7 linked regions of the Homo sapiens genome follow. The protein of the gene in region 3 interacts with the protein of the main gene of each other region in a biochemical or structural test. Each region holds a gene or a part of one and is shown on either strand. Other genes may lie near its edges. The genes, in order: DUSP5, PRLHR, PATJ, TNRC6B, CD226, PKN2 and CLDN9.

Region 1 (3,500 bases), on a different chromosome or scaffold from region 3:
TTCTTTCCCTTTTTGAACTTCTGTTTAGACCAAGAGGAAGAAGCCAAAGGCCTTCAGAAACCCCAAAAGTTAACACAACCTCATCTGGCTGCTCTAAATGCAGAAGCATTTCTAAGAAGTAGCATTAGGGGGTTCCCCAGATGAATCTTGAAGACACATCAGGGCTTTCTCACCCCTCACTTGGCCAAAGATGTGCCGTGCTTTCGCAACATTCTGCCAATTCTTATTTCTCTTTCACTTTCTGAGAAATGGGGGGAAAACACAACCCAAACAAACAAACAAAAGTAGAAATCTAGCTAGGCCAGATGTCCACAGCTTGAAAGCCACAGGCTCGTCATATACTGTAAGGATGTTTATTAAAGGAAAACAAACAAAATCCTAACCCTGGCATCTGGACAAGCTAATAGGATTCCTGACCAAGGAGCCCGTTCAAGAAAAGGTCATCTGGCTTTACTTTGAAGTTTATCCCCAGGGACAGGGTTTTGTTCATGGCAGGGAGCTGGCATTTTAGCATCTAGCAATCTTTCTTCTTATGATTTGGGTATGTTCTTGGTTTATGTGAAAAGTTTGAAAGGTTACTCCCACCAGGTCAGGTGTCTAGATTAGAGGCCATGTGGAAAACAGAACAAGGTCCTGAAATAATCACAACAGAGAGCTGAGAGAAAGGGGTTCTGAGCCTGATGCTGCCTTGAACCAGCTGTAGGACTCTGCAAAATCAATCATCTCACTTGTCACAGAACACTTCTTTTCCCTTCCGTAAAATGGTTAGGTTTTGATCTCTGGCTTCTGCCAGATTTGGATTCTCACCTGCTTTTTCATCTTCCTGGATGGTGCTACGTAACCCCCTTCCACTTTATTTTTCCCTTTAATGAGTTATCACAAAGCACTCATTTTTAGAAGAAAAACAAAAACTCACTAGTTTACAGAAACATGAAGCCCTCTAGTATCTTTTGATTTCCTCTGGTTTCAGTTATCTGTGGAATTGTAAGCATAAGAACCCCTTAGAGGAGCCTACTTAGCCACCCAAACAGGACTTTCTCTGTAGCACCCCCACCAACACCAGTTTCAGTTAAACATACCAATAAGACACACCTTGACAGGTACCGGGATGGTTTGCAGAAACTGCAGAGCATGGACAATTACAAAGAAAAGCAACACAGGAAGCCTGAAAGTCAACTCTGAAATGTCTTCAGGGAAACCTAGACCAGTATTTCAAAGCTTCTCTGAACCTCCGAAGCCAGATGACAATAATGTATCTTTCACTTCCCCTTTTCCCCAGAAGCTGCCAAGCATCCTGTGGCTGGTTTGCTCTTGTCAGCTCGTTTGCTGGAAGGAAGCCCATTTACTCTTGGATGGAAGCTCAAGCTGGCAAGCAACAGAAGCTCCCTAAAGCCAGGGGATTTTGCCAACACCCTGATCCACAAAAGAACTAACCATCATTGCTGAGTGGGGAGAGAACAGTCAGGTGCTGAGGAAGGAAGGGAGACAGGAGCCCAGAATACCACTCAGGATACCTCTTCCCCATCACATCACGTACCTGGTCATAAGCTGGCCTGTAGCTGACATTTACCACTGGTTTTCCACACTGGCTGATGAGGGCTCTCTCACTCTCAATCTTCTCTTGTGAAATGGGTTTTACATCCACGCAACACTCAGGATATTCCGAGTAGAAAGTCTCATATCCCCCTACAAAAACAAACAAAAAGGTGAGACAGATGGTAAGCATCAATTTCTCACGCTGTCAAAAATACCCATAGTTAATCAATACTCTGAGTGTTACACAGTTAAGAAAAAAAATAAGCCAGTACAGATTCTGGTCATTAAAAATTGAGCAAAACCAGCAAACAGATTTAGAATAGAAAGGGGCTGTACACACATACAAACCTCTAAAAAGAACTCTTTCAGAGGCAATGATTAACTTTTTGTGTCTATCAGAAGCAGATTAAACTGTGAAAGAAAGTGTCTAGCATCTGGCAAATACTAACCAAATCCCTCCAGAAAACAAAGGCTATTTTCTCTCTTGTTTATCTAAAAGGAAGGTGTGATTACCCAAAATTTCATTAATTGGCGAGAAGACAGGCTCCTGAAGTGGCTTCTTCCCCAGCCCATCTGCTCTAAGCAGGATTCTAGCTGGAACCTCCTCCATTTATAAGGAAATGGGGGCTGATACGAGGTTTCATTTCGACTCAGGGCAGTAAAACAGCCTCACTGCTTCTCACTCCCAAGGTGCTAAGAAGAACACTGCTGACAATCCTTTCTAGGTCCAATTTGGAGTCATCAATCCAGTTAATTACCTTCTAAATCAACTGAAAGAATAAAGACTTCTGAATTTAATTCTCAGCCCTCATGAGCAAAAACTGTCTCTGTCCCCTTCATGACCACCCTATCTTCTTATCCCCACTTTTCTTACTTCTCTCCTACTCCTCCTGCACCCCCCCCCCAATCAATAAGTCAACTTACGGCATGTGTGACTCTCAGAATCCTTAATATTACATTTACACCTCTCCAAATGGATATAAGGTAAAAACGACCCTCTGAGCAAGTCACGGAAACTTGCAAATATAAGTAAGCCTTCTTGGGCCCATTTCAGTGGGGAAGAACCGAATGAAAAGGTGGCCTTGGAACCCTCAGAATGCCAAGGGCTGCCAGGTGCAACAGGCCAGCCTTGCTTGGGAAACTCCTTTGCTGGTAACCCAGAGAGCAACCTGAGACATTTCCTAGGGCCTCCAGAAAGCCCACTTGTCTTTTTCTGGCCCAGAGAATTCACTTGGAGTCAAATCCATTAAACATGCATTCTGAGACCATGAATTTTCCAAAGAACCCCCTTTTTCTTTTCTGACTTTGGGTGTTGTGATGCTGGCTTTTTTAAAGCCCTGCAGTAGACAAATGGTTAATGGATTACAAGGCAGTCTCCAACTCCCTCCCAGAAGCTGCAGCCAATTCCTAGAATGAGTCATCTTGCCATTACCGCTTCCTCTCAGCTCACTGGAACTGCCCCGCCCCCACTTAGTACACCCAGATCTCCCCTGTGGTCACCTCACAAGCAGCCCATTGCGCCTGCCCATGAGCTCCTGGTCCTCCTCAATGACCATGCTCCCCACGACAACGGGAGGCCACGGCAGAGGTGCAAGATGGTGCTATAGGCAGCTTAGCTTCCCATGCTCTGCCATAGCCCCTGGGCCCCTTCCCTTCCAGCAGTCAAGAGAGAATGAGGCAGGCTCACAATGACCCACAGCTTCCTTGGAAGAGGCATCCCTAGTCAGTAAACCACCTGATCACTTCCCGTGCCTGGACCTCGACATTATGGGTTCCAGGAGACAAACAAGGATTTGGATGGGAATTTGGAGTTCAGAATGACCTGGGCCCTCCCAAACTTCAGGACGAAGGTTGGGGAAATAGGAATCTTCAGGCTACCCCATCTTTTGGCTTTAAATATATTACTTCAGAGTTGGCTATCAGGAGGACAGATAAGAGGTTCGGGTGTGGGCTGGATCCTGCAT
Region 2 (2,635 bases), on a different chromosome or scaffold from region 3:
TGTAATTGATGTCTGGGCTCTCCTCCCAAGAGTCTAGTTGATTTGAGATGGTGCCTGGACACTAGCATTTTCCAAAGCACTTCAGGGGATTTTAATGTGCAACCAAGATTAAGCACCTTAAGAATTATCCTTTCTAGGGCTGGGCATGGTGGCTTACACCTGTAATCCCAGCATTTTGGGGGACCGAGGCAGGCAGATCACAAGGTCAGGAGTTTGAGACCAGCCTGGCCAACGTGTTGAAACCCTGTCTCTACTTAAAATACAAAAATTAGCCAGGCGTGGTGGCGCACGCCTGTAATCCCAGCTACTCGGGAGGCTGAGGCAGGAGAATTGCTTGAACCCAGGGAGGCAGAGGTTGCAGTGAGCTGAGATTGTGCCAGTGTACTCCAACCTGGGTGACAGAACAAGACTCCATCTCGGGGTGGGGGGTGGGGGCGGGAATCCTCTTTCTAATGAATCTCAGAAACATCCGAATGAAGCTTTAGTTGTACCTGCCAAAGGTGTTAATAATTTGGAGCTGAATTTGACGGTGTTACATGCCATACTTAGAGAATACTCTTTTAGTCTTCAGGCAATACCAGCTCAATCACAAAGAGGCAAATTATTGAAATCAGAATATATAGGGATTCGTTCAACAGTTTACTTACATATTTCTTATGTATCAGTCCAATCAATTCAGAAGGAATATCATCATTCAACCTTAGGTCAATTGTATTATAAAGTTACATACCATGGCCAGGTACCATGGCTCACATCTATAATTCCAAAACTTTGGGAGACCGAAGAGGGAGAATTGCTTGAGCCCAGGAGTTCAAGACCAGCCTGGGAAATATGGCAAAACTCCATCTCTACAAAAAATAGCCGGACGTGGTGGTGCACACCTGTGGTCCCAGCTACTTGGGACACAAAGGCAGGAGGATCACTTGAGCCTGGGAGGATCACTGGGCTGCAGTGAGCTATCATTACACCACTGCACTCCAGTCTCAGTGACAGAGCAAAATCTAGTCTCAAAAAAACAAAAAAAACAAAAACAACAAAAAACAACAAAAAACAAATTTACATACCATGAATTATTTTAAATCCTGGTTGTCAGGGTGTTAGAAAAAGTGCTCCTTGATTAGCTTAAGTTTATATCAACTATGAAAAACAAGCATCTCCATTAATTACTAGAAAAGCTGCCACTGGTTTCTGTCATGCCTACAACTTAAGTTTGAAACACTTACATGGACTTTATAAAGAGCTTAAAGAGGTTGGAGAATTAGATTGTGCTTATAAACATCTTTACATATTATGAAAATCAGCAACGGAACAGCAATTAATTCTTACAACATCTGAAATGTGTTGTGGACTAGTTTATAAATCAAACCGAATTTCAAAAAAATCAGAGGTGAGTCCCAGAGAGAACTGCGTAGGACTGTAGGTAGAAAATTTTATTTAATAATTCATTTTGGTTAATATCAAGCATCTAAGATGTATACACAGTCCTCTTCCTGCAAGGAGTAATACAGGCAGTCAGGCTGGGAACTGAGCCAACTTGGTACTTGGCAGCAGCCCTTCTCAAGGCTGATGGGAGGTTCTGTAATCCTCTTTGCAAGCTTTGTCACCAGGTCACACTTTTGGCAGCCAATCAATAGATTTATCTCATTAAACTGGCAGAAGAGTGTTTCAATGCATGCTCCAACAGCTACCTGGAAATAGCAATTGTGAGAGATGCTAAGGTAAGGATATTCCAGTTCCTATAACCGTCTGATTTTTTGTCCTTGTGAATTTTCAATCTGCTGTTTTACTGGGATAGCTAAGTTCCAGGTTTATTTTCTCAGGTAGGCTCACCCACGACCTCTGTCCTGTGGTTTGCATTCCTGAACATCTGTTAGTCTTTCAAATGCAAGGCACAAAACTAACCTCAAGAGTGTGGCTAGATCTGGGAGTGAACACAGGGCCTGTCCCTCACAGACGAGAGGTCAGGAGCACCTTTGTTTCCCAAGGCAGGTTCTTGATTGATTTACCTTCATGCGTTGATGTCTTTGCTATGTGTGTAAAATGCATGTGTTGCTGAATCACATGTGAAGCTCTACATGCTGGGGTTTATACTGTGTTTGGCATGTTGTGGGAGCTCAATAAATACTAAATCAGTTGCACAGTCTTCAGCCACAGGATTAATAAACCAAGCCAGTTATACATATGGGGTAACTACACAACCTCAGGATAGCCAGAGTCAAAGCAAGGATAAATCATGTCAAGGAAAACATGCTATTCAACCTAGATTTGTCAACTCCACCTTATTCCAGAGATGAACTGTTCATTTTGGGTCTTCTGTGACCCCCTGCCCCCAACCTCAGTAATGCCAGCATTTAAATATATGGCACCAAGCTCTCTACTCCCCAAGACTGCATATGCCTAAATCCACGGGTCCATCAAAATGAGAGTAGAGAACTTCATGCCTAATTTCTATACCATCATATATTGGAGAGTTATTTAAATGTTAGCATTTTATCACCCATTTCTCACACATAATTTGGGAAGGTCTAACAACATCCCACATATGGGTCTATAAGCAAAATCACGAGGTTTCTAAAATGTTCATGATGGAGTCATAAAAAAGATTTTTCAGTACACCTAAAATACCACTCAAAAA
Region 3 (3,500 bases):
GCCAGGCTGGTCTCGAACTCCTGACCTCAAGTGATCCACCTGTCTTGGCCTCCCAAAGTGCTGGGATTACAGGCGTGAGTCACTGCACCTAGCCAAAATTATTTTACTTTATTTTATTTTAATTAATTAATTTATTTATTTGGAGACGGAGTCTTGCTCTGTTGCCCAGGCTGGAGTGCAATGGCGCTGTCTTGGCTCACTACAACCTCTGCCTCCCAGGGTCAAGCGCTTCTCTTGCCTCAGCTTCCCAAGTAGCTGGGATTACAGGCGCCTGCCACCACACCTGTCTAATTTTTATATTTTTAGTAGAGATGGGGTTTCACCATGCTGGCCAGGCTGGTCTCGAACTCCTGACCTCAGGCGATCCACCCGCCTTGGACTCCCAAAGTGCTGGGATTACAGGCGTGAACCACCGGGCCTGGCAATTATTTTTTTTTTTAAAAATTTTTATTCATTTATTTTATTTATTTATTTTTGAGACAGAGCCTTACTCTGTTGCCCAGGCTGAAGTGCAGTGCCGCGATCTCCACCCACTGCAAACTTCACCTCCCTGGGTTCAAGCGATTGTCCTGGCTCAGCGTCACAACCTCAGGTGTGCGCCACCACCACTGGGTAATATATATATATATATTTTGTATTTTTAGTAGAGACAGGGTTTTGCCATGTTGGCCAGGCTGGTCTCGGACTCCTGACCTCAAGAGATCTGCCCGACTTGGCCTCCCAAAGTGCCAGGATTACGGATGTGAGCCATCACGCCTGGCCTCTTTTAAAAAATTTTTAGTAGAGACTGTGTCTCGTTATATTGCTCAGGCTGGTCTCGAACTCCTGGTCCAAGCCGTCCTCCCGATTTGGCCTGTGAAAGTGTTGGGCTTACAGGCGTGAGCCACCCTTCTGGCCCAGAGAATTTCTTTACAGCCACCTTCAAGATGGAAAAGCAGGGGAAGATTAGAGTCCTGCCTTGGGGAGAAAAAGGAGCGAATGAAAGGAGGGGCAGGAGAGTGTCAGAGATATTTCTGGGGACTGCTTCTGAGACTTAAAGCACCCCAACAGTATAATAAAAGACTGTAACAAGAGTTATGGGAGTTATAAACCAGGAATCATGGATGAAAACCAATATGCAATATCACAAGGTCACATAAAATGGGTTTCCCATCAGAAAAATAGTTGTGTTTGAAGCTGAATAGAAAATTAAGCTCTATTCTGCATTTAATGAAACCGTAATAAGTTTAAGCCATACATTAATATTTCTGTAACTATAAAGCTAACATATTCATTGTAGAAAAATTGGAGAAAATTTTCAAAAAAGAAACTAAAAGTACACAGACTACTATTGAGAGATAACCACTAATAACATTAGGATGTATTTTCTTTCAGATTGCATTTTTAAAGTTAAAGAGAAAAATCTGTATATATGTTCTCATAGTGAATTCACATTTAGAACCTTGTGATTCTGAGACAATGACTCAGCATTTTCTAGTTCTTACAATTGCATTTTTACTTAACAGCATTTAATAATTATCCTTACACTGAGGAGCCAGCAGGCTGAATTTACTTGCTTTGTTAAAGTTTAACAAGAATATATTAGGTTGGGGAAGCCAAAGTGGGATTTAATTTGTTCACTTAAGACTTTGCTCCCCTTGGTGAGCCAACTTGGTAAGTTTTTTGAGAAACGGGACCAATCTACCTTGGTATTTGCATGACCATTGCTATGTTTTCTTCCTTAGGGTTTTGTGTAGATTTGGATGCCTTTTTTAAAGCCCTTATTTTAGGTTCCGGTGCAAATGGGGAGAAATTTAGTGCCTGTCAATACCCTTCCTTTTAAGTCAGTGGGATAGATCGATGCTGAAGATGTAGAGCTCACTTATTTTTTGTGTTCGTACAGCTGTCCAGCCAGTAAAGTTTGGAGACAAGGAATTGGGTCCACCTACCATATAACGCTTGACAAGTCATTTAATTCTGGTCCTCCAGAATCTGGTCCCATTTGCAAATGGTCTGCCTTACAGAGATTTGGCGAGGTTGAAAGAAAAGAATGTTCAAGAATGTGTCTTGTAATCTGTAAGCTGTTATTCTCCTGCTTTTTGTTCCTCCCTTATGTTTAATTCCGGTAAAATTATGGAGTTGTGATCTTTTTATTGGGAAGAACTCAAGTTTGTGAGTGCTCTTACTCAGATAGTTACTTTAAGAAAAGGCATAGAGACCATATGAGCTGAACTGATGAAGTCTTTCCTAAAAACACGGTGGAGGAAGAAAAAACAAAACCAAACAGGGATCTTTCTGGAAAGGCATAGATTAAAACTTTACTACAGTAAGCCACTCTCACACGTGGGCATGGGCCACTTTATATTGGGTTAGTTAGGATTGAAATGTGCTGTAAATGCACAATACACACAAGATTTTGAACAGATTTCATGTAAAAAGGAATCTAAAATATCTTATTAATTTTTATTTTTTGAGACACAGTTTCACTCTGTTGCGAAGGCTGGAGCCGCCTCCTGGGTTCAAGTGATTCTCGTGCCTCAGTCTCCCAAGTAGCTGGGATTACAGGCGTGCGCCACCACACCCTGCTAATTTTTGCATTTTTAGTAGAGACGGGGTTTCACCATGTTGCTCAGGCTGGTCTCTAACTTCTGACCTCGTGATCCACCCGCCTCGGCCTCCCAAAGTGCTGGAATTACAAGTGTGAGCCACTGATCTGAATATGTTTATTCTTAAGAGGGTTTAGTTTACCAAAGCACTTACACTGCTATGTGTATACTGCCTTAATGCCTTTTTTTTTTTTTTTTTTTTTTTTTTTGAGACGAGTCTTGCTCTTTTGCCCATGCTGGAGTGCAGTGGCTTGATCTCCGCTCACTCCAACCTCTGCCTCCCAGGTTCAAGCCATTCTCCTGCCTCAGCCTCCTGAGTTGCTAGGACTGCAGGCATGCACCACCACGTCTGGCTAATTTTTTGTATTTTTAGTACAGACGGGGTTTCACCATGTTGGCCAGGCTGGTCTCGAACTCCTGACCTCAAGTGATACGCCCGCCTCAGCCTCCCAAAGTGCTGTGATTACAGGCGTGAGCCACTGCGCCTGGCCATGTAAATGGATTAATACTCCAAATTATAGGTCCTCTCTATAACCTCCTCCCTTATACTCACTACAGTGGTGAAACATTTTATTTTTCAGTCTTCTCAGAACTAACTTACTGATTACACACTAAAATCTCTGCTACAATAATTTAATTATTAGCTTTTGCAGTGCCATGATCATGGTTCACTAGCCCTGACCCCCTGGGCACAAGGGTTCCTCCCACCTCAGCCTGGACTACAGGCACGCACCGGCACGCACCACCACGCTCAGCTAGTTTTTGTTTTTGTAGAGATGGGGTTTTGCCATGTTTTAAATCATTTTGATTGAAAAGAGATGCTAATAGTAGTTATCATTTGTTGAATGTGTACCATGTGCTAGGCCAAATGCTCTAAATTATCCTCTTTAGTGTTTGCAGTATACATATGAAGTA
Region 4 (3,500 bases), on a different chromosome or scaffold from region 3:
TAATCCATTTGTGGCCTCTTAGAAAAATGATTACTTTTAACTCATTCTTTTTTCAAGTATTGAAAAGAATGAGGAAGGAAATGAAGATTTCTCACTGGCTCCCCATGCAGAATAAAACCTGCTAAAATTTTAAAAAGCTACATCCACATAGCAAAAACCTTCAAACTGTGTGGAAAAGCAAAAGATAGTCAATAAAATAATCTTTGGCCAGGCGCGGTGGCTCACGCCTGTAATCCCAGCACTTTGGGAGGCCGAGGCGGACAGATCATGAGGTCAGGAGATCGAGACCATCTTGGCTAACACGGTGAAACCCCGCCTCTACTAAAAAATCGAAAAAATTAGCCAGGCGTGGTGGCGGGCACCTGTAGTCCCAGCTACTCGGGAGGCTGAGGCAGGAGAATGGGGTGAACCCAGGAGATGGAGCTTGCAAGTGAGCTGAGATCACGCCACTGCACTCCAGCCTGGGCGACAGAGCAAGACTCCGTCTCAAAAAATAATAATAATAATAATAATAATAATAATCTTAACCCCTAGGGTCTCTTCCCAAAGGTAATCTCTTAGAAGTTTGTGTCCCATTCAAAAATTTTACAGAGAAGGGATTGTACTTCGTATACTGTTCTTCACCTTGCTTTTCTCATTATACTTATAGCTTCCAATTTTAGCACATAGTCTGCTGCTTAATTGCTTCATATACAGTATTTCTTTTTTTTTTTTTTTTTTTTTTTTTTTGAGAGGGAGTCTCACTGTCTCCCAGGCTGGAGTGCAGTGGCGCAATCTTGGCTCACTGCAACCTCCACCTCCCGGGTTCAAGTGAGCCTCCTTCTCAGCCTCCCGAATAGCTGGGATTACAGGCATGCGTCGTCACGCCCAGCTAATTTTTGTATTTTTTGCTGGAGATGGGGTTTTGCCATGTGGGTCTGGCTAGTCTTGAACTCCTGACCTCAGGAGATCCACCCGCCTTGGCTCCTAAAGTGCTGGGATAACAGGCGTGAGCCATTGTGCCTGGCCTTTACACAGTACTTCTTTTATGGGTGACCCACAATTGGTCTAACCAGTCCCCTTGTGGTGGATATTTAGGTTGTTTCCAAATTTTTTCTATCAGTGATGCGGTGAGTATTGTTATACATGTAATTTCACCTATTTTTACAAGTATATTTATGGTATAATTTTCTGGCAGCCTGGGCATGATGGCTCATGCCTGTAATCCCAGCACTTTGGGAGGCTGAGCCAGGCAGATCACAAGGTCAGGAGTTTGAAGCCAGCCTGGCCAATGTGGTGAAACCCTGTCTCTACTTAAAAAAAAAAATACAAAAGTTAGCTGGGTATGGTGGCACACGCCTGTAATCTCAGCTGCTCGGGAGGCTGAGGCAGGAGAATCGCTTGAACCTGGGAGGTGGAGGTTGCCATGAGCCAAGACCACGGCATTGCACTCCAGCCTTGGGGATGGAGCAAGACTCTGTCTCAAAAAAAAAAAAAAAAAAAAAATTCCTGGCAGTTGAGTTACTGGGTGAAAAGTTTAATGTGCATCGGATTTTTTAAAAAGTAGCATTGCCAAATACCCCTCACATGAAAGTTGAATCTATTTACATTTCTACCAACAGAATATAGGCATGCCTGTTCCTTCCACCTTCACCCCACTGGATATTATGGCATTTCATTTAACAAATGATTCTTAGAGACATTTCCTTTCTTTATAGTCTGGAGCAAAAGCACACCACCTGCTCCAGATAATGGTACTTCCGCTTGGGGTGAGCCAAATGAAAGCAGTCCTGGGTGGGGCGAGATGGATGATACAGGAGCATCGACCACAGGCTGGGGGAACACGCCCGCCAACGCTCCCAATGCCATGAAGCCTAGTAAGTGTGAAGCTTTTCATTTTTGAGGGATCCTTTTTTTTTTTTTTTTTTAATTGAGACGGAGTTTCACTCTTGTCCACCCAGGCTGGAGTGCAGTGGTGCAATTTCGGCTCACTGCAACCTCTGCTTTCCAGCTTCAAGCGATTCTCCTGCCTCAGCCTCCCGAGTAGCTGGGATTACAGGCGCCCGCCACCACGCCCGGCTAATTTTTGTATTTTTATTAGAGATGGGGTTTCTCCATGTTGGTCAGGCTGGTCTTGAACTCCTGTCCTTGTGATCCACCCGCCTTGGCCTCCCAAAGTCCTGGGACTACAGGCGTGAGCCACCGTGCCCGGCCGGGATTCTTTGTTAAATGTTTGTCAAATGTCAGATTTGAGAATCTGACATTTTGGTGAGGGCTGTTTAGTTTTAAGCTGTTGATTCAATGAGATTCAGGACCTTGAGTGTTAAATAATTAGTTAATAGCAAACGGTTGTGGCTTGGCTTGGCGTTTCTTAAAATGTTTAAGGTGAATTAAAAATCATAAGTTAATTTTGTTTTAAATTTAGTATCTGGACAGAATTATAATTTTGATGTGATGCTCTTTTAGCCCAGTGACTATGTGCTCACCATATCTAGCTTGCATTTCTACTTGTTAGTATAATTTAAAACAAGAGTTCCTGGCTTTTAATGTGGAACACGATCTGTGCTGCCCAGTGACTTCATCCTTCTGCACCTTCCTTTGCCGTTGTCTCTCTTCCACATAAGAGCATTTCAGATTTTTTAAACCTGGCATAAATTTCACTTCAATTTTTTAAATGAAGAACGTCACACTTATTCAGAATCATTGAAAATCTAAAATCTAAGCTGTACTTGATCCAGCTGGTGATGTGTGGTCACAGTAATGAGCAGAACTCTGTGGACTGAGGCTATGGAATGTCTCATTGACTGTTGCTAAATTCAGGTGCCTGTTTACACTTACTTTTGTAACTTTCTTTAAAATGTTCCAACATCTCTTTTCTACCATATAGAAGCAGATTTAAGGGATTATCTTTTGATTAAATAATGAACATTTCTGGAATGACCAAAATTCAAACAAGAAGATAAATTCTGTTAAGTTTATCACATTATATTCAGTACTCTTACAGTGCCACATAAGGGAATGTGATATTAGCTCTATTCTGGAAATTCACATGTGTGTATATGTAGTAATTTGACTACATTTTAAAAATCATGAATCTCCTCGACCTCATTAAAATAGTTAGCTTTATGAAAATTTTGTTTTTATCATTATTTCTATTGTGAAATCAGTCGTATCATCATGGGAAATGTAATCTAGTAGACTTGAAATAGACCCAAAATGCTGCAAGAAGATGTTAATCAGACCCTGGGCACAAAGAGATCCTTTAGCAGTATATTCAGGATTTTCATGTGTCTTTCCCAACCTCAGGATCACCTCTCTTCTATCACAAAACCACTTTTCCTCAGATTCTAAAAATGTCTTCTACTCTTCAGGATCATCTGTAGTTATAGCACACATCCTTTCTGTGGGTAAGTTAAATGTGTAATGTGCGGAAGAAAGGGCTAAACCATCATAGTCTACCAGTTGATGGAGACAGTTACCCTGTGATCTTCTGTAGCCTGTCTTAAATTTGATGTTATGAA
Region 5 (3,500 bases), on a different chromosome or scaffold from region 3:
CAGAGGATGTTAAGGGCCAAAAATAACTGTAGTCACTGTCAATAAACAGACATTCCCCTGTGCTCCCCCCGTCCCCACTTTCCTTGCCCTTCGGTCCAGGCAAGTTTCAAATTCAGAAAAGTCAGTCTGGAATTATTTCATTCTACATTTCAGGACATAAGTGCAAAGGACAAGAGAAATGTATTTCTTTTCACTCAGCAAAGAAAGTCAGTGGTAAATGTGAGTTCAGTTCTTGCTTCTGCCATTTTCTCCTCTGTTCAAAACCAATCAAGGCCTGGATACTTGACCTGCTGGTTGGCAGGGGTCCTCTGTTGAGTGACCTGGTACTTGTCTGAAGATGAATGCAGGCAGGTAGGAGTCAGGGGAAGAGCCCCTCTCTGTGTGTGTGTCCGTGTCTGTGTGTGCATGTGTGTGTGTGTGTATGAATATGAGAGTCCTAAAAATCTCTCTTTTAGATCCAATACTATGTGCTATAAAAGAAGTCATTGAGAACTAACAAAAGTATGTACAGCAATTTATAAAATCTGCCACAATCACCTTTCCCTTGGCAGTTGAAATAAATTAAATCTGTCCCACATCTTATATCTGTCTCTCTGCTTTAATCTCCACATTGATTTTTGACCAAAGAGCCTCAAGACGTGAAATAATCAAATTGCACCAGAGAAAACACAAATGATCTGTTTTGCTTTGCATCTAAGTTTTATATTCAATCTTTCACTTATAAAAATTGAAAAAAGGAATTAAACTGAAACATACAGTCAATGGCTGTCATCTTCTGTCAATGATAACTTTTTACTAATGGATACAAGGTCCAGTTGACATTCTTTCAATCTGTCAACTGAATGTCAAAAAGCCATTTGCAACTGTTCAAAACACATGGACACTAACACTACTGACCATTACATTTAGTCATCTTCATTTCATTGGCAGAGTTTGACGCTGTTTATAATTTACATACAAAGAAATAGTTTTGTGCAAGAAACTTAGTCATCTTTGGACAGATGAATGACATTTTTATTAATTAATAAGAGTTAAATAACCATATCTCCTAAAAATCTGTTACCTTCATTTTCTCTATAATTTAAGATGTTTACAATTACTTTTTCAGCATATAATGGGCAAAATCTTATACGTGTTTGAAAATGATTCTTTATGACACTTTTCTGAATAGAACATTTTTTTCTTGCCTTGGTCTCTAATCTGTTTTCACTGTTTCTTTTTCCTGACCAGTTTCAAAAAATACTTCCATAATGCAAGGGATTTTTAGGTAAGAAGTTCTTTTTGTCTGTGTCTGAAGGAACAGAGTCAACATTTAAAATGAGGAGTCTCTGCTAATTTTTCCTCCCCCAAATATTTCACCAACCACTCATCATTTTCATTAAATTCTAAGTCCAATGTATGTCTCACCACAGTTCCTAGAGGAACAAGGGAGGCTTGATGTGGTCCAAGGTGATTGTGTATGAAAAGATGTTATTCCCTGAAAATGCTCTCCTTATTATACACAGAGCTATAGTGGAAGCTTCTGTTTATACAAGACCTTTTCTTCTTCATTTTCAACACAGGAAGAAATATCAGTTTGCAATATGAGCAAAGTCTATAAAGGGACAGCCAAAGCCTAGCAAGCGTTGGCTCTACAAGTCTAACATAAGTCAAAGGTAAATTAGCTGGCTGAAAGCATGTGGAAGGGAGAAGGGAAGGAAGAAAAGAAAAGGGAATGGAACAGAGTGAAAGAAGGAAGGAAGGGAAGGAAAGATGGAAGAGAGTGAGGGAGAAAGGGAGGGAGGGAACTGTAATACAGGCCTCTACACAGAACTCTATATGGACCTCTATATTTGTACTTCTGTAAATAAAAAAAAAATCACTTTTTCTCACAATCATACAAAGTGGATCTAGGTTTTGTGGGGGCTGGAATCTTACACAATTTAAGGATTCATTGTGACAAAAGAGACAAATGCCTAATACACAAATAGTGCAGTGCTTTGGAAGGGGCCTGCTCAAGTGGGAGGAAGGAAGGAAGGAAGGAAGGAAGGAAGGAAGGAAGGAAGGAAGGGAGGGAGGGAGGGAGGGAAGGGAGGGGAGGGGAGGGGAGGGAAGGGAAGGGAGGGGAGAGAAGGGAAGGGAGGGGAGGGGAGAGAAAGGAGGGGAGGGGAGGGGAGAGACAGGAGGGGAGGGGAGGGGAGGGGGGGGAGGGAAGGGGAGGGAGATGGGGAGGGGGAGGGCAGGGGAGGGGGAAGGTAGGGGAGGGAAGGAAGGGGAGGGGAGGAGGGGAGGGGAGGGAGGAAGGAAAGGAAGAAGGGAGAACAAAGTGAAAGGTAAAAATAAATTATTTTCTCTTCCGTGTCCCGACAGTGAGGAAGCTGGCCCAGAGGCAGAGCTGGGAGAGCCTGGGATGGCCTTCCTCTCTCTCAACTGTAATGCAGGCCTCTACACAGACCTCTATATGGGCCTCTCTATATTAGCACTTCTGTAAGTGAAAGAAATTACTTTTTCTCATACTCATGCAAAGTGGATCTAGGTTTTGCAGGTCCTGAAACACAATGAAAGGCTTCATTGTGACAAAAAAAAGACAAATGCCTAATATACAAATAGTGTGGTGCCTTGGAGGAGGCCTTGGAGGAGGTGGAAGCCCCAAAGGCCAATTTCACCAGCACAAAGATTATACTCAGTAATGGTCACCAAAGATCTAAGTCAGTGGTTCTTATAGTATGTTTGGGGGTCCCTGAGGATCCCTGTGTCCCTTTTGGGGATCTGCAAGGTCAAACCTATTTTCCTAGTAATATTAAGATGCAACATCAGTCTGTTTCTGCATCCACATCTGAAAAAGACTGAGAGAAAAAAAGGCTCCTGTCTGGCAAACTGGCAACCGCATTCTCAAACACCTGCTGAAATGCACTCAACGCAGCCCTGCTTCAGCCATATCAACCTAGCACTGTCTTGTATTGCTGGGGTATGTGGGGATTCTAACACCTTATCACCACCATCAAAAATATTCATGTAATTGGGAAGATAGGAGTTCTACAGCTGAAACCTGAAGGCTGGTAATACCATATGTTTTTCAGCCCTTTACGAATTTCTTTTTTAAGCTTCAGGATGGTGGCAGATAAGAAAATTGGAAAGATTTTTATTGCTGTATCTGATTGATGGATTCACAAGATAAAGAAACCCTCAATACTAGAATAATGGCCAACTCACCTAAATTCAGCCATTTAAAAAAATGCTGAATATGCGCATTAAATGAACATGTTTACCATAAATAAAAACAGAGACCAGCCCACGGGGCTGGCTTTTTCCATGTTTGATACCAGAAGATGTCTGGTGCTCACTCACCCTCGGCTACAGTCAATCTCATCACGAAGGTTTCGTTTTCTCCTGCGCTGGCCTGCAAGTAGCAGCGGTAAAGCCCCGAGTCTGAGACTGTGACATCGGGGATGACGATGACGCTCCACCTTCCGTGGCTGCAGTTGCTCACTATTTGTCTTGGGAACTTGGAGGTGAAATTT
Region 6 (3,500 bases), about 27 Mb from region 3:
TTAATAAACTATGTAAACTTTGGTGGCTAGAGGTTTCAAGGTATAAGGAAGAATATTTACTGTAGTAAAAATAAAAATCGGCTGTTTAAAATGGCCAATTTCTAATTTTTATCTCATAACTAATTTGTTGTGTTGTATTCTCTTTTTTTATTTGAAGTATAGCAGAAAACAGACATTTTTGCAATGCCAAAGAAACTAAAGTCTATTTCCAAGAAACCTGGATTAATGAAAACTGTAAAGAATCTCAGAATGAAAGTGTTGGCTACAATGGTAATTTTGTAGAATGCAGACCAAATATTGAGCAGTGTACTAACAAAGCTACCTTGTTGATTATTGGAGATTCATTTTCTTCATCAAAATGCCCAATAAAGTGTTGGTCTGGGAATCTTAAATTCCATTCTCAGCAGATTTTATTTAGATAGAGGTAACTTGCTCAAGTGGAAAGTTGAGATAGTTACCCTTAAATTACAGGGGTTAATTTCACCAAACAGTTATGTAGTATCTACCAAAGCTATATTGGAGGATATAAAGATGACAAGATAGGTTTTTGCTTTCCAGAAGAGAGTATAGATAATTGTACTAGAAGATAATTATAAGAGACTACAAATAACATTTTAAAAATTATTTGCTATATATCAGACATTGTACTTAGTGTCCTATACACCTTATTTGATCTTCACAACAATCCAATAAGGTAGGTGTTATTTCCATGTTGTGGATCAGGAAACAAGTTCAAGAATGTTAAGGAAATTGCTCATGGTTACATTGTGTGTCTGAGTTTGAACCCAGGTCTGTATGTTTCCCACTACACTATTCTTTTTTTTTTTTCTGGAGACGGAGTCTCGCACTGTCACCCAGGCTAGAGTGCAGTGGTGTGATCTCTGCTCACTGCAATCTCCACCTCCCAGGTTCAAGCGATTCTCCTGCCTCAGCCTCCCAAGTAGCTGGGATTACAGGCACCTGCCACCACACCCGGCTAATTTTTTGTATTTTTAGTAGAGACGGGGTTTCATTATGTTGGCCAGGCTGGTCTTGAACTCCTGACCTCGTGATTCGCTTGCCTCGGCCTCCCAAAGTGCTGGGATTACAGGTGTGAGCCACCATGCCCGGCGCCACTACACCATTATTTAAATTGCCACAGTTCTGGGGAACTATAAATGTTTTGCATCTAATGTTATAGTTGTATGAACTTTCTACAAATTGGCCAAAAACGTAATTAACCAACATTAACTTTACACTACTTGTTAGCTCCGTCTGTAACAAGGAAAAATGATTTCTACATTCCACTTGGTAGTCTATAATTTAGCAGTGTTTTATTATTGTAGATACAGTCTAATATTTCACAAAGAATAATAGTACAAATAATCTTTTTACAGGGTTTCTTCATTAAGAATTACTGTTTCTAATGAAAGGTGTCACATGCTTGCCCAAAACTTCCCAAAAGATTTAACATTACTCTGTAGACTGTGCTTTGCTTTAAAATTTTATACTCACATGTAACCTAGCTCTGTGTTTGACACTTAGTAGGTGCGCAATACATTGATGAGAATGCTCCATTTGTCACGTAGGAGGAGGGATGTCTAGGTTATTTTAAGAGAAGTTCATTATAATCTTTGACATATGAAATTACGTAGTTTTCTTTAATTTACATTTCTAATCCCTTCTCCCAAAAATATTCTCTTTAAAAGTACAAAAGGGATTTCTATAGTAGTTACATCATTCTTCCATATAGCACACTGGTAGTTTACTCATTTAATGGAAAATGAGAAGACGGCATCTAATTTTGCAGTGACACTGGAAAGTGGAAGGTCTGAGTTGGGAGGATTAAAATTTTAGGGTGGTTTGGGGGTTGGTGGTATGAGAAGGTAAACAGGGTAGTTAAGACAGACTTTACATTGTTTTCAAATTAGAAATGTAATGCACATGTATTACAGAAAATCCAGAAAATGTGGAAAAGCACAAAAGAAAATAAAAGTTGCTCATAGTTCTGTCACTTAGAGACTGACAGACTTTTTCCACCTAAAAGTCCCATGGCTGTAGAGTCCATTTTTTCTTTTTTTTCTTTATCTCATTTTACTTACTAGAATTTTGAAGAAAAATGAAGCTCAGAGAATTTTAAGATAGAAATCACAGTAGGTTAAAAACTTTTTTCTTGCCACTGGTTCTAGATGAGTGGATCTAATTAGCTTTTATTGCCTTTTTTAATCTCAAAATATTTCAATTATGAGTCACGGCTTTATTAAGAAGAAAAGTGCAGGCTGGGCATAGTGGCTCACACCTGTAATTCCAGTGCTTTGGGAGGCTGAGACAGGCGGATCACCTGAGGTCAGGAGTTCGAGACTAGCCTGGCCAACTTGGTGAAACCCTGTCTCTACTAAAAATACAAAAATTAGCCAGGTGTGGTGATGTGTGCCTGTAATCCCAACTACTTGGGAGGCTGAGGCACAAGAATTGCTTGAACTCAGGAGGCGGAGGTTGCAGTGAGCTGAGATCACGCAACTGCACTCCAGCCTTGGTGACAGAGTGAGAACCTGTCTCAAAGAAAAGTGCAGTAGTATGGATTTAGTAATAGACAGTAATGAAGTATAGCAACAATTTCTTTGAATAATATAGCAATACAGTGTGTTTTTCCGGCTTAGGTTTGATTGTTGCTGCTCTTATAGACTACCACAATGTTTGTAATTTGCAGCGCATACTTTGCTGAATTAAACATACTAAATAACTTTCCAAATATTTCTTGACTACCAAGATAAAAGTCTGTGTTAAAACTAGTGTTACTAAATGATGGCTCTAAAATGGATTTTTTTGTCATCTCTCATTAGTGTAATAGAGATTAGGTCTAGTATCATGCAATTCCTACCATTCACATAGTGTTGAAATAGGGACAAGTAGGGGCACCTTTTAGACATCATCTCTTTATCCCAGAGCTTAGCATCTGATTCCTTGGGCTCTCTTATTTCTGCTTTTTGAATTTGGCAATGGTAAATTTTCATGCCATTCATCAGAAGCATGTTTACTTTTAAACAAATAAAGTAGTAGTTTGTAAACATCACCTAAAATAATGTTACTTTCATACCATAAATGGTATTTGAATAAAACAGTTAATTCTACATTATTCCCTCATAAAATATACTGTGCTGATAATTGTCAAATGTCTATATTATTTCAAAAGCCAATTTTACTCTACAGTATATGACATTTAATATGATCAACTTTTGATATACAGCAGAGTTCAAACTTGACAGCAAAGTTGAAAACTAGTTAAAAGCTTTAAAAAGATTTAAAATTTAGAGTGGGAAAAATATACTAATGAAAAAGTAATTCCTTAATGAAACAGAAATAGAGAATCTTTATCTTGATGCATGTCTAGCTTGTCTTAATTTTATCTGATGAAATCTTGTTTGAAACTAGCTCTATTATCATACTTGGTTTTTTTTTGCAATCACAAAAATGAAATTTGTGTAACATTATATACATAAATATTGCCTGTAAAAAATGAA
Region 7 (3,461 bases), on a different chromosome or scaffold from region 3:
CGGCCTCCCAAAGTGCTGGGATATCTAATTTTTTGTATTTTTAGTAGAGACGGGGTTTCACCATGTTGGCCAGGCTGGTCTCGAACTCCTGACCTCGTGAATCGCCCACCTTGGCCTCCCAAAGTGTTGGGATTACAGGCGTGAGCCACCGCACCTGGCCGTCACACCCCTTTTTCAGACAACAATCCTCAGAGGTTCTTAGCACCCAGGCAGGGGCTTGAAGGAGTTCATGAACCCTCCCCCACAAATGAGGGGCACATGTTTGTGGGTGCATGTTCTGTGAGTCCCACGGGGTTTCTCAAGTGGGTCTTTGACCAAAGGAGGTTAAGGACCTCGACCTTCCATGACCTGTCCCAGGTAGGGGTCAGGATTTGAGCTTTGGTCAGTGGGACTCCCAGGCTGTCCCCATGAGTGGAATCACAGGCTCTGAGGGGGTTTTTCCGGAGGTAAGGCTTTCCTGCAAACTGGAAGGCAGGTCTTGGGGACACTTGAGTCCCTGGACTTAACCCCCGTGCCCACCTCTGGGGTGTTTTGGCCCGGGAGGCCTGACTGGCCACTCACTCACCCACCCATGGAACATAACCGGGTCCTGGGCTGTGCCCCACCCTGGGTTCCAGCCCCAGCCCGTCCCGCCTCCATCCCCCTTCCTGAGTGCCCCCCAACCTCCACAACAGGCCCCTCATCCTCTGGCCTCTGGAGATCTTAGGCAGCTCAGCTCAGCCTCGGTTTCAGCAGCAGGGGTGGCAAGAGCGCACCTGAGCTGAGGTTGAAGTGGGGGGTAGTTTTCTAGGCCGTTGCCAGGGCGATGCCACCTGAGCTGGGCGCCAGGCACCTGTCGTCTGGGGAACAGTGCAGGCGGGGACCTTCCCCCGGGAGCTAGCGGGGCCACTGGGCTGAGACGGGGGATGGATCAGATTCCAGAGAGTCCCAGGCGGGCGGGAGTGTGCGATACTCGGGGAGCTGGGGCATGTTTGCATCACGAAACTCGGCTGGGGGAGAGCAGAGGCAGCTGGGGAGGGGCTGCGGAAGGAGGAGGCTCAGGAAGGCAAGCCGACGCCCCCTGTGTGTGTTTCTGTCCTGAGCCTGTTACTTTTTTGACCCCCGATCCGTCTCTTCTTCCTCAGCTTGTCCTCCATCTTCCCCTCCTTTACCCTTGGTTCCCACATGCACAGATGCTACGGACGCTTTTCCTCCCCTGTCCCCACTCAGCCGCAGCATCCCCCGCTGGCCCCCAGGCCCCTCATCCATCCGCTGCCCACGAACCCCCAGCCCCGCACCCTCCCCGTGGCTCAGGTCTCCCCTATCCCGGCCTCCCTGCACTTCACTCTGCTCCTCCCCTGCCTGGGCCTTAAAACCCCGCCTGCAGCCGAGAGCCCGCAGAGTCCCCAGGTGGCACTGTCAGAGTCGCTCAGTGGGAACCTGCGCCAGCCGGCAGGAGACGTGGCTGTCCTCAGCCTGGCAGTGCGTCTGGAGGGCCTGTGCGAGCTCAGCCCAGGTGTGACAGCGGGGTGGTAAGAGCAGCAGCACCCTCAGGGCATCCGATGGGCGGAGGCCCCTCGAGGTGACACCCACCACTCAGCCGAGCGGGACTACGAGTCTGCTTTGTGCTCCGCGAGGACCAGAAACACCTGCAAGAGGCACGGAGAGGAGGCGCCTTTCAAGAGGCGCCTTTCATGGAACTGAGGACTGGCCTGGCTTGGGGACACCAACAAGCCTTCCCCCTCCTGCTGGACACAGAGACACCCACCCAGCACACCAGACACACCCTCTGAGTCACCTAGGCCGCCTGGGGCTGAGAAGACCTAACCGAGGGGCCAGATGGCTTCGACCGGCTTAGAACTGCTGGGCATGACCCTGGCTGTGCTGGGCTGGCTGGGGACCCTGGTGTCCTGCGCCCTGCCCCTGTGGAAGGTGACCGCCTTCATCGGCAACAGCATCGTGGTGGCCCAGGTGGTGTGGGAGGGCCTGTGGATGTCCTGCGTGGTGCAGAGCACGGGCCAGATGCAGTGCAAGGTGTACGACTCACTGCTGGCTCTGCCGCAGGACCTGCAGGCCGCACGTGCCCTCTGTGTCATTGCCCTCCTGCTGGCCCTGCTTGGCCTCCTGGTGGCCATCACAGGTGCCCAGTGTACCACGTGTGTGGAGGACGAAGGTGCCAAGGCCCGTATCGTGCTCACCGCGGGGGTCATCCTCCTCCTCGCCGGCATCCTGGTGCTCATCCCTGTGTGCTGGACGGCGCACGCCATCATCCAGGACTTCTACAACCCCCTGGTGGCTGAGGCCCTCAAGCGGGAGCTGGGGGCCTCCCTCTACCTGGGCTGGGCGGCGGCTGCACTGCTTATGCTGGGCGGGGGGCTCCTCTGCTGCACGTGCCCCCCGCCCCAGGTCGAGCGGCCCCGCGGACCTCGGCTGGGCTACTCCATCCCCTCCCGCTCGGGTGCATCTGGACTGGACAAGAGGGACTACGTGTGAGGCGGAGGTTTCCCCTGGGAGCCCACTGCTCCCCACTGCCCCGCCCTTTCGACCTTGGCCTGATGACCAGATGCCCTGCTCCATCACAACCTCCTTCCCCAGGAAAACCCACTTTCCAAAAGCCCAAGCTACACCTGGCTGCAGGGCTGGGTCAGCTGGCCTGGCTGAGCTCTTCTCAGTGGGGTCCCCTTTGATGTTCTCCCCCAAGTTGGGCAGCCTAGAGGTGTTGGGAACCCTGGCCTGCCCCCACCTCCCCAGTAATTGTTTCCTTCCGTTGCCCAGGACACTGGCTGGCCTTCCTTCTCTTCTGAGCCCTCCCCTGCCCCAGGAACCCTGGCCTCACCAAAACAGCAGCAGCTCGTTGGCTCCAAAACCAGGGAGCAGACCATGCCCTCCCAACCCTGGAGTTGTCAGGGAGGGCCTGCCCATCACCTCCCTCTCCCCAACATCCCCACCCTCGAGTTGGAAATAAAGAGCATTTGTAACTGGGCTCCCTCTAATCTGTGCGCCGCCGCTGGGGCTGGGCAGGCACAGCCAGGTGGCCTCCCTTGGTGGCTGTCAGGCCAAGGTCTGGCTCTAGGTTCTGCCTGGTGGGTATGCTCACTCAAGCCACGGGGAGAGGGGATCGTGACTCACTTATGCCCATCTCTTCCCCTAGCCAGGGTGGGCACTCAGTAACCCGCTGCAACACCAAATGCACTAACAAAACATGCTTTATTTGATAAAAATGTGAGTGTAAAGGGGGTGAGACGAGGGGGGCAGGGCAGAAGGGTGCAGTGTTGGAGGTGGGGGCGGGGGTCTACATAGCTGGGACCTGGCCCTGGGGGGTGGACGTCTTATCAGGACGGAGGAAACAGAGGTCAGAAGTTCCGGAGGTGGGCAGTCCTTTGTTAACAGATCATTTGTTTTTCCAGGGGTGAAGAGAGGAGCTCCAGAGACCTGAGTAGGATGGGGGGCAGCTGTCCAGTGACATCTAGGGAAGCCCAGCC

Evidence for each region.
Region 1: the proteins of PATJ (region 3) and DUSP5 interact in a test that uses a peptide from one of them, tested with the Homo sapiens proteins (one large-scale study listed by IntAct).
Region 2: the proteins of PATJ (region 3) and PRLHR interact in a test that uses a peptide from one of them, tested with the Homo sapiens proteins (one large-scale study listed by IntAct).
Region 4: the proteins of PATJ (region 3) and TNRC6B interact in a test that uses a peptide from one of them, tested with the Homo sapiens proteins (one large-scale study listed by IntAct).
Region 5: the proteins of PATJ (region 3) and CD226 interact in a test that uses a peptide from one of them, tested with the Homo sapiens proteins (one large-scale study listed by IntAct).
Region 6: the proteins of PATJ (region 3) and PKN2 interact in a test that uses a peptide from one of them, tested with the Homo sapiens proteins (one large-scale study listed by IntAct).
Region 7: the proteins of PATJ (region 3) and CLDN9 interact in a test that uses a peptide from one of them, tested with the Homo sapiens proteins (one large-scale study listed by IntAct).

Annotation. Positions count from the first base shown.
Region 1 is NC_000010.11:110,500,907-110,504,406, reverse strand, and holds part of DUSP5 (dual specificity protein phosphatase 5), read right to left. Parts: intron 1,687-3,500; coding exon 1,538-1,686; intron 1-1,537. UniProt on the Homo sapiens protein: Dual specificity protein phosphatase; active with phosphotyrosine, phosphoserine and phosphothreonine residues. The highest relative activity is toward ERK1.
Region 2 is NC_000010.11:118,589,497-118,592,131, reverse strand, and holds the end of PRLHR (prolactin-releasing peptide receptor), read left to right. Parts: 3' UTR 1-2,135; downstream 2,136-2,635. UniProt on the Homo sapiens protein: Receptor for prolactin-releasing peptide (PrRP). Implicated in lactation, regulation of food intake and pain-signal processing.
Region 3 is NC_000001.11:61,745,480-61,748,979, forward strand, and holds part of PATJ (inaD-like protein), read left to right. Parts: intron 1-1,619; exon of another isoform or gene 1,620-1,653; intron 1,654-3,500.
Region 4 is NC_000022.11:40,268,425-40,271,924, forward strand, and holds part of TNRC6B (trinucleotide repeat-containing gene 6B protein), read left to right. Parts: intron 1-1,697; coding exon 1,698-1,856; intron 1,857-3,500.
Region 5 is NC_000018.10:69,892,374-69,895,873, forward strand, and holds part of CD226 (CD226 antigen isoform a precursor), read right to left. Parts: coding exon 3,328-3,500; intron 1-3,327.
Region 6 is NC_000001.11:88,687,273-88,690,772, forward strand, and holds part of PKN2 (serine/threonine-protein kinase N2), read left to right. Parts: intron 1-3,500. UniProt on the Homo sapiens protein: PKC-related serine/threonine-protein kinase and Rho/Rac effector protein that participates in specific signal transduction responses in the cell.
Region 7 is NC_000016.10:3,011,545-3,015,005, forward strand, and holds CLDN9 (claudin-9), read left to right. Parts: upstream 1-1,378; 5' UTR 1,379-1,818; coding exon 1,819-2,472; 3' UTR 2,473-2,961; downstream 2,962-3,461.